Homo sapiens: one gene and its partners. The protein of the gene in region 2 purifies or fractionates together with the protein of the main gene of each other region. This does not show direct contact. Each region holds a gene or a part of one and is shown on either strand. Other genes may lie near its edges. The genes, in order: PDCD11, ZSCAN32 and TES.

Region 1 (2,738 bases), on a different chromosome or scaffold from region 2:
CCCAGGGGCAACAGAACTAGTACTAACTGCGTTTTGTTCCTCCATCTTTTGGAGCCTGACATTTGAAATTTAACATGCACTGTTATGCTGAGGGGCAGAGAATCAACAGGCAGCAAGAGGAAAGCCCTCACAAGGCTCTCCTGACTTAGAAGAAGCAATGCCACAGCCAGTTCCTACTCCCCGATCCTGGAGTGCTCATGGGCTCAGGAGCTGGGAATGAGCACTCACGCTCCTTGCTAGGCAGGCACTCCAGGGCTCGCTGCAGCACGCGGTGACTGGCTGCAGCCTGGCTCCTCCGCAGAAGGAAGGCGCCGTATTTGATCCACACAGCTTTCTCCTGCCGGAAACGCTTCAGCATCCGGTTGTAGAGTTCACCAGCTTCCTGTGGGAAAAGACGAGGCACGCTGAGGAGAGTGTGATACTACAGAGGGGACAAGACAGACAAGCAGCAACACTCACAAGAAGCTAGACCTGGGCTCCCAGACACCAAATCACTCTCAGGGCCTAATGCTAGAGACCTGAGAGGAGCGGGAGGGAGGCTCACAGAAGGGCACCGTGAACAGGCACAACACGACGGAGGGGATTCCCTGCTGATCCGCACCCATGGGAGGGCGGTCCTAGCCTAGAACATGAGAATGACAAGGGGGAGTAGGAGAGACGCCAGAGCGGATGCTGGGCCGGGACGTCCCCTTCTGTCTGTGATGCCCTGCCAGCAGCCCAAGGCAGACACACCAGGGGTCCACTGCCCCTTCACTTCCAAAGCCACTCCTTCCCTCACCTTGACCCCACAGGCCTGAAGAAGAGGTGAGGGAAATGACTTCTTTTACTTGGAAGATAGGGAAGTTGGGGCCCCGATGTTGGGTGGCAAGCTCACAGCAGGACTGGACCCAGCACCCCAGGGGCTCTTCTCTGAGATTGTGGCCCTGGAACTCCCAGGAGTTCGTCTGTGGCCCAACCTCCTACCTGGAATTTCTCTGACTTGGCGTAGATGTCAGCCAGGTGGAGAAAGACTTTGAGAGGCTCGTTGTACTGCACGGCTCGCTCAAAGACCTTGGTCAGGGACTCCTGAGAGCCGTACATGTTCTCCAGGTTCAGCAGAGCCACCCACACGTTCAGCTTCTCCTGCTCCTCTCTGGAGGGAGAGCAGTCAGCACATGAGCGCCACATGAAACCAGTGAGCCTCCCGCCCCATCCAGACAGACTCAGGAACCACCTCCCCCTCCCAGCCTCTATCTGTGTCCTCAGATCCCACCCCAAATGTAGACCCTAAGAGGCTGTGTCCCCACAGCTCCTGCAGCATTAGAAACCCCTGCCCCAACCCCAATGGCTGAGTCTGAGGCTCTCCTGGATTCTGCCTCCATTCCTAGAAAGGATGCCCACCAGATCCCAAACGGGCCTGAGGTTTGGGCTGGACGCAGAGTCCTGGGTCTGATTCTCTCTTCAAGCTAAGAGGATGAAGCAAAGGACTGCCTTCCCTCTTCATTAGGCCTCAAAAACTCCCTCTGTTTGGAAAACCACCACAGGGATTTCGCCCAGGTATGTAGTGAGTTCTTTTCTTACTGTGTTTCTGCTCAAACTGGTTCCCTCATATAAGTGTATGGACTCTTGTGAAGGTTACCCTTAGCAGTTTCAGGGAAGAAGACTATAAAATATAAATGAGTAGATCTATTTCACAGATGGCCGCAGCTATGGCAGAAAGCCTGAGGACCCATGGGCCCCTGGTGGCAGCCACCCAAAATGCTGCCGGCCTGCCTAGGAGGAGCTACCCCACAGGTTGAGAAACTTCCCAGCCCAGAACGTGCGAAGACACTGTGCTCCCTGGGGCAAAGCTGAGACCTGAAGGAGATGGTCTTAAGGGCCCTCTCAGCCACGGCACGGGCCTTCTCGATCTCCGTGGCCTGCAGGTGGAAAGCCATGTACTGCAGCCACAGAATGGAGCTGTTGGGGGAGCTCAGCACCAGTCGGTCAAAATCATCCGCGGACTCTGGCTGCCGCCCAGGATCCATCAGCGCCTCCTCAATGCGGGACAGTTCCTTCTCTGCCTTCTGCTTCTCCAACTCCCTTTCTTTCTTGCTTTTCTTTATCTGCTATGGAAAGCAGAAACACCGTGAGTCATCTGCTCCTCAAGGCCTAGGGGAGGTCTGTGGTGGAAGTCACGAGTTGGCTGGGCAGCCCAGGGCTCTATATATACCCCCTGGCCTGGGACTGGCCGCTGCCCCCTCCCCCACTCACCCAGGAAGACACCCAGTCTAGGAACAGAGCACAAGAGACTGACACCAAGGGGTCCCTGCAAAAAGGACATGCCCTGCAAAATACAGCACCGTGGCTTGGTGTGGCTTCTCATCCTCCTCGCTGTCTGAGCTCTCTGCTAGAGGTGGCAAGGCCGGGGTCAGAGAGTCTAGTCCCACATTCCAAGCGAAGCCTGAAGACAGCTGCAGCCGGGGCGCTTCTGCTGGCTTGGTTTGCTTCTCCTGGAGGAACACAGAGGCGCTAAAGAAAGCACCTGGCTCAGGCTGCTCCCTGTTCCCCCGTGCCAGCCCACCTGGAGGAGCATGGACTCCTACCAAGCCCAGAGACCCCTCCTCTCCTCTCCTCTCCTCCTAGGCCATGCCAGGCCCCAGCCCACTGGGGAAACTTTATAGCAGTGACATAAAAGTTTTCTTTGTAAATACATTTATTTAGATAACAAAATTTTCACACACACACATGCATATGCATACCAGTATATAAAATAACAG
Region 2 (3,654 bases):
TTTTCCTGTATTTTTAAGCGATGTCACAGTCATATTTGTACAATTCTTGAAGTTGGAGACTTGAGAAAAAATGTATTATCTTGGTGTGAAAAATATGAAGGGTTTCTGTTACTGTGGTATTTTAAAGAGTACTCTGGTTATCTTTGGGTGGCAGGGCTATGGAGAGATTTTTGTTTGCCCACTACGATTCTCTTTTTTTCCCTGACATGTATATTTTTCTTTAAAATGAAAAAAAAATTAAAGCTCTTATGCCAAGAGGAATCTCATGAAAGGAACTTCTCAACTCACAGAGGCCGTGAGCGCTGGCAGTGGTTCTCAAACTTGAGTTTGCCTCAGACTCATTCGGAGGTGGGAGAGTGATAAAACAGAGTCCTAGGCCCCACCTCCAGAATTTCCGATTCAGAAGATCTGAGGTGGGGCCCCAGAATTTGTATTTCTGATGGGTTGCCAGGGGCTGCTGATGCGGCTGGCCCAGGAGCCCACTTTGAGAGCTTCTGCTCTGTGCTGTTGTGTGGAAGCCGCCCTCTAATAGCGGCTGTTTTTTCCCCCAGCCTGGCTTGCTCCTCAGGCTCCCAGGAACCTGCCTCAAAACACAGGTCTCCACGACCAGGAGACAGGTGCTGTGGTCTGGACAGCTGGGTCCCAGGTGAGCTGTGGTTGATGCCTTCTGTCTCTTGAGTACCCACTCTCACCCCAAAACCCTCCTCCTTTCCAGAGACATGAGAAAGATTCTGTGTGGTCCATGGGGCTTCTCGGGTTATTTTGATTCTGTCCACTCTGACATCATCACATGGCTCAGAACCTGTCCCACTGGGAGCTGACCTCCCCTGCCTTTGCCTTGCCCCTGATCTGACAACTGTGATCCTGTCTCTGCCCCCACCCCAGGCTAGAGTGGTGCTATTTTATCGGTAGCAGCAGCTCCAGTGTTGTTACAGGGACCAGCCATGCGTGACAACAGAGCTGTATCCCTCTGTCAGCAAGAATGGATGTGCCCAGGCCCTGCACAAAGGGCCCTCTACAGGGGTGCCACCCAGAGGAAGGACAGTCACGTCTCGCTGGGTAAGGATCCATCTTCCCTCCAGGTCAAGGTGGATGTGTTCAGTTGTTCAGAGAGGCTGAAAGGACTTGAGAGGGAGGGAGACAGAGGGAGTGGGGAGACTGTTGGGTGGAGGGAAAGGAGGAAGTAAATGGGGAACCAGAGCAGGCCAGAGAGACACAGGCAGAGATCAAAAGAAAGGGGCAGCATGTGTGACCGGCAGTCAAGAACATGGGAGGTGAAGGGTGAGGCGGTGGAGAAGCAAAATGTTAGTGAGACAGAGTCAGAACAAGTAGTCCAGAGCCGGAGCCAGACAGGTGGCCACCAGGAGCACAGATGTGTTCATGCTGAATGTGCGCTCATGCACACAGGTAGCAGTAGTCGCTCCCGAGTTTCCCCAGTGGCAGAGGAGATTAACAAATAAAACCACCCAACCAGGACAGTCTACTATGCCCAGGCCTTCCGGGAGGAACCAGGCCCTTTCCCAGCATCTCAGGACACTTGGGGAAGGTTCTGCCAAGCAGACCGCTCTCTTGCCTTTCTCAAATCAGTTCTGTCCCATCTGGGCCAAATGCCTCCTCCTCAGAGCAGCCTCCCTGACCATGCAGATTCAGAGACAGACACTGCAGCTCACTGGGCCTAGATTTCTCCTCTGCTGCTTCACATGCAGGGTACTCCTGGCTAAGCCCAGGGTGGGAGGGACTACACAAGGCTGTGAACACAGGCCCTGTGACAGTGCCCCGCCTCACTCTACAATGTTGCCCTCCCCAGTGGTGTGTGGTTTTTCCCTGCTCTGCCCCTGCCATCCCTCCCCTCCTTTGCCAGGAACTCCCAGTTTCCTGGCTTCATCATGTGCCATTTCTTGCTGCTGCTTCAGGCTTCTGCACCTCATCTCTGTCCAGTTGCAGGAGAGTATAGTGTCTTTTTGAGCTCTGTATTGAGATTTGTATTACTAAGTATATATGGATAATACAATAAGGTGAGATATAAATATTTTTGTACTTGTGATTTTTAACTTATTAGGTGAAATTCACATGACATAAAATTAACCACTGTAAAGTGAACAATTCTTTGGCCTCTAGCACTTTCAGAGTGTTGTATAATTACCACCACGTCCAGTTCCAGAACCTTTCCATCTCTCCAAAGTAAGGTCCCACAACCATCCAGCAGTTTCTCCCCGTCCTTCCCCTGCAAGCCCTTTGCAGACACCAGTCTTCATTCTGTCTCTGTGGATTGAGCTATTCTGAATATTTCATGTAATGGTACCTGTAATTTTAACTGCTACAACATTAGGCTTATTGAATGAGGGCTTGTATTCCCCACACACTTTTGGTTTCTTGTCAACCATTGAGGATCCTTTAAAATTAGAGGTAAGAGTTGAGACAGAATGTGAGAGGACAAGTCATTCTTTCCACAAATATTAATTTAGTGCCTACAGTATCTCAGACCTAGTTCTAGGTCGTTAGGGATACAACAGTGAACAAACAGATAAAGATTCCTGCCCTGTGGGAAGAGACAGACCATAGCATAATCAGTAAGCGGCAGAAGATGTTAGAGGGCGATAAGCGCAATGGGAGAGAAGCAGCAGCAGAGCAGCGTGATGGGAGTGCTAGGGCAGAGGTTGGTTTGCAGTTTTCAGTTTGGGTCCTCAGGGTCGCCCTCACTGAGAAAATGACATTTGAAAAGACTTGCTGAAGGAGGAGGGATGAGCTATGCAGCCATATCCTACATGGAGGAAGAGTGTAAGACAGACGCAATGACTTGGGCTGGAGCGAGGTGGGCATGCCAGTTCACTGGCACAGAGTACACCCATGAGTAATGAGAAAACGAGCTCAGAAAGCCAGATCAAATGAGTGCTGCTAGCTGAGACTGAGAGGGAGCAATTAGAAACTTTTATAACAATTTGACACTGCTGCACTATTCGGTTGCATTTTTATTGTATTTTACAAAAGAAATAAGCACAAGACTCCTGTCCTTCATAGATAATTTGAGAAGTACTAATATGGGATCATGAGGCCCTACATGAAGGACTTTTTTCTTCTGAGTGAAATGGGGGAGCCTTGTGCGGTTCTGGGCAGAGGAGTAATAGTTTTAAAAGGACCACTTTGAGTATGTCACTTTATTTGGCACTTAACTCTACGTAAACATTTATTTGTGTCTCTTTTTGCTGGAGAGACTTCTATAGGACTGTGACCTCCTTGAAGGCAGGGTTCATGTAATATTTATATTTCTCAGAAACTGGCATTGTAGGCACTCAGTGTTAGTTAAATTGAATAACAAAGGAGGGGACTCCCTCTGGCTGTTGGGTTGAAAGTAGACCGTAGAAGGTCCAGAGTGGAAGCAAGAAGACCAGATAGGCTATGGCAGTGATCCAGGCATGAGGTGATGGTGGCTCAGTGTGGAGAAGAGGGGGTGACAAGAAGAGGCTGGTGCGCTTCAGAGCATCATGACCAGATGTTGGAATGCACTTGCTGGGACAGCTCTAGTCAAATCGGTCCTCATGAACTGGCCCAGATGGGCAGCAGGTGTGTGTGGTGAGGGTTATTTAGTAGCCAGCCATCCTGAACTGCTCTTCTCAGATGTTTACTACTTATTCTTACCTTGGTGTGTTAACTGCT
Region 3 (3,654 bases), on a different chromosome or scaffold from region 2:
TGTTTACTTATTGGTACTAAGGTCTAACTAACTAAACAAAACTGATCAGAGAACATTAATAACACTGACCAGGTACTTGCTATATGTCAGGCACTGTTCTAAACATTTACATGTACTACTTTATTTAATTTCACAATAATCCAATAAAGAAGTACTATCCATGTTTTGCAGATTAGATCTCTGAAACCAAGGAGCAACTGTTGCCAAATTACTGAGTAAATATCAAAGGTGGGATCCAAATCTATGTCTGGAAAAGTCAAAGTCTGCGCTGCTTCCTTTAAATTCCCTAACTGTTAGAGAAAAGTGGGCAACAGTGGTCCACAGGATGATCCTACCCTCTGGCTTAATTTTATCTGGTCCATGAGAAAGTAACAATGAATAACATCACTACTGGTTTACCTGGGACATCTTAAAAGAGCTGTGGAGTTAGGCCACTGAAATCTGTCTTGCCTCTTTTTACCTTTAAATTCTGCCAATTATCTTGGGATAACCTTCTATTCCATTACCAAAGATAGAGTCTAACACATATTATTGGAATGTTCACAGAATATATTTTCCATTTGTTGCAGTATATAAAAGGTAATATTTTGTAATTCCCCTTCAAAACCTTAGGCAACTTGCCATTTCCCAAAGAAATGAGTTTTACATGTCTTCGTTTAACACGGAAGTCACATGACCCGGCTGGAATGAATTTGGAGAGGCCTATGTTTCAAAGCTAACAGAAGAGTGACCAGATTAAAAAAAGGAAACCCTAAATATCAAGTAAGGGATACTGCAAAGTTAACTTTCCTCTACAGTTTTTCAGAATGACCAAAAACTACTCTGCTTTGAAACGTGTAGTCTGATACCATACAGAATATCATCTCAGAATACTCTTGATACATGAAAGATCTTCAGAAAAGTATCCTCAAGCCCCTACATTCAACTGTCCCTCTATAGCACACGTGGTAGACTGAAGTAATGGTCCCAATCCTTCATTCCCACGTAATAGTATTCAACATCATATCCCTGCCCTAGCCTCATAGTTGCTAGACTGGACTTCTCTCCTTGACTTCAGAACTGGACATGTGACTGCTTTGGCATAAGAAGAGGCTTAAAAGGTGCTCCTGCAGTTGGGCATGACCTTTACTGTTGGCTTCACTGATCTAAGAAGGATGAAAACCTGGCAACATTGTGGTCCCAGTCCACAGCTCAGAGTCCAGACCAGCCTAAATGAGCTAGACTCTACTGTGAAATTTCCTCCTCTCTCTCAATAGATGACACAATGTATTAAATAATCATCACAGTTAAGGGAGATCAGAAACTCTTCAGCTGTGGGCTAGGGTCTTATACTAGCTCAGTGACATACCTCTTTAATTCAAACCTGTACTGTGGAAAAATTACAAATTACTGCAGCTCATCTACTTTAGCTTTATTTTAGAAGAGACAAAACTGAAAATGTCAAGGGTGGTTTTACTGACTTTTCACAGCCAGGTACCTTTGGTTCATGCTATTTCCTCTTTATGGAATGCTTTCTTTGCCTAATGAAAGCTTCTTTATTCTATAGGAGGTGTTTCCTTGATAAAATAATCGCAACCCACACAATTAAAGTTAGTTACTTCTGCTTCTAAGACTTCATAACAGTTGTTTGTATTTCTATTATTGCTGTGCTACTCAAAGTGGCAGTTCACAAAGTGTAAGTCACTAGTCTGTGATGAGATAGGCAGAGAAACTGACAGTAGGCAATTAGGAACTACTATATACTTAAAGTAATTTTGTGTCTCTTGCATTTAATAATTTTTTTAATTGGCCCTGTATTTGTCTTTTAAGTAATAAATTTTTATTGTGTTTTTAAAAATATCAACCAATGATTAATTTTTGTTTATAAAAAGGTTCCTCATCCCAGATAAGAAATTGTATTATAGCACTTATGTCATTCTATCCAGCACTGTAGTTAACTTACACATCTGTTTTGCTCACTCATCTTCCTTCCTTTTTTAAAAAAAAATCTATCAAAGGTGACATCGGTATTTTGCTCAAGAGGTGATACTGATAGATATGGAGTTTAGAGTCTGTAGTTTTAAATCTAAACTGCACTTTTAATATTCTCTACGAAAAACAAAGGGTAATTTTTTTAACCCCCAGTTATTTTTATTGTAGGCCAGTATCTCATAAAGGAAAAATCAGATCCTTGATCCTTACTTTGTGACTCATTCTGTTAAGACTGTCACGTTGTGGTCATATAAAAACAAAAATCCACCTAACATCTACATGGTCATTTTTCAATGAAACATGATATCACTTTATCATCAAACAAAGCAAGGGAAAAGTTCATTGTGGCTAGAGATGCATTAATGGACTCCTTATCAAGGCATTTCTGCTGGGCTGAATGCCATCTTTTCTGCTGGGCTCGCTGCTCAGATAAGCTATGCAATGAACACCCTGAAACTCCTGTTTACAGCTTTTCACAGTGGCCAGAATGTCACAATGATAAACACAAGCTGAATCACTCATGGTTTGAGGATAATTCAGCATTTCAGATTAAGTATATTTACAGAGTAGTAACTTTGCTGTCATTCAGCAGATGAGATCTCAGCAATCCCCACTAGGCTGGCTTCTAATAACGCTCTCCCACTTTAAGCCATGCTCAAATCTGAGCCGACTCCCCACCATTCTAACAGACTAAGGAACAGAGAAATTGGCAATTCTAAACTATGCTTTTTTACTTTTTTGAATTTGACCAAAATAAATACAGTGATACTTAGAAAATTATAGTCATGCATATCCTTATCGCTCTAATTCCCCATTATCTAACTAGAATGTTAGGTAGACAGGGCACTTAGAACTGAAAATTGACAAAACCATGCTAAATGGCAGCTCTTTTGTAGGAGAGTCAAAGATTGTAGTTGGGCAGTTGAAAAGCATAACCTCTAAATTTAATCCTCTAATAGTGCTTGAGGCAAATTTTAAACATGGATATTTACTCAAAGAACAGTAGTGAAGTTATCAATTACCAAATTATTTTTCTTTAAAATCCTGAAAATCTGCAGTTTTGCAATGTTTTTGATTAGTCTTTTGTTTCCTTATCTTCCTCTCCTAGAAAAAGTTGATTTCATAATTAATAATATAATTTCTCTGGATACCACCACCTTGTAAAAAGTAAAATAATTTCCTGTATATTAATGATTTAATAAACAATTCTTTTAAAATCATAATTTTGGTTACCATGGCAGTAGTTACCAAACAAAAATTAGCTATGACTGCAAACAGGAAATCCAAGAATGACTCTTTTGTAAGGCATTTGTAGGCAGGGAGAAGACTTATAGTTTGTGTATATTATAGGTGTAAGTCTATTTGTATAGCTTTATGCATTCATAATCTTTTTCACATTCTAATACATAAAAGCTGCTTTCTCATTTTCCCATCTTTTACATTTGCTATTACTTAAGACAAATGAAATAAGAATCCCTAATTACAAAGTTTGCAAAACCAAGAATCAAGCCCAGGGATCACCATCAAAATTGCTCACTGTCTGTGTTAGAAACATAGCGTACTGCTAACCTATCAAGAGTTCACTGACGGGTATAATTCCAGTTGTGCTTACTTTCAATATTTACATTGCTCTATCAACACTTGCAATAGCATAATTCTATGATACAAGCTTAAGTTCAGTGT

Evidence for each region.
Region 1: the proteins of ZSCAN32 (region 2) and PDCD11 purify together in Homo sapiens (affinity purification with mass spectrometry; one large-scale study listed by BioGRID and IntAct). This does not show direct contact.
Region 3: the proteins of ZSCAN32 (region 2) and TES purify together in Homo sapiens (affinity purification with mass spectrometry; 3 studies listed by BioGRID and IntAct, with this or other methods). This does not show direct contact.

Annotation. Positions count from the first base shown.
Region 1 is NC_000010.11:103,441,559-103,444,296, reverse strand, and holds part of PDCD11 (protein RRP5 homolog), read right to left. Parts: intron 2,472-2,738; coding exon 2,322-2,471; intron 2,088-2,321; coding exon of another isoform or gene 2,085-2,087; coding exon 1,837-2,084; intron 1,133-1,836; coding exon 964-1,132; intron 383-963; coding exon 229-382; intron 1-228. UniProt on the Homo sapiens protein: Essential for the generation of mature 18S rRNA, specifically necessary for cleavages at sites A0, 1 and 2 of the 47S precursor. Directly interacts with U3 snoRNA. Involved in the biogenesis of rRNA.
Region 2 is NC_000016.10:3,387,415-3,391,068, reverse strand, and holds part of ZSCAN32 (zinc finger and SCAN domain-containing protein 32), read left to right. Parts: intron 1-551; coding exon 552-646; intron 647-885; exon of another isoform or gene 886-935; coding exon 936-1,059; intron 1,060-3,654.
Region 3 is NC_000007.14:116,217,031-116,220,684, reverse strand, and holds part of TES (testin), read right to left. Parts: intron 1-3,654. UniProt on the Homo sapiens protein: Scaffold protein that may play a role in cell adhesion, cell spreading and in the reorganization of the actin cytoskeleton. Plays a role in the regulation of cell proliferation. May act as a tumor suppressor. Inhibits tumor cell growth.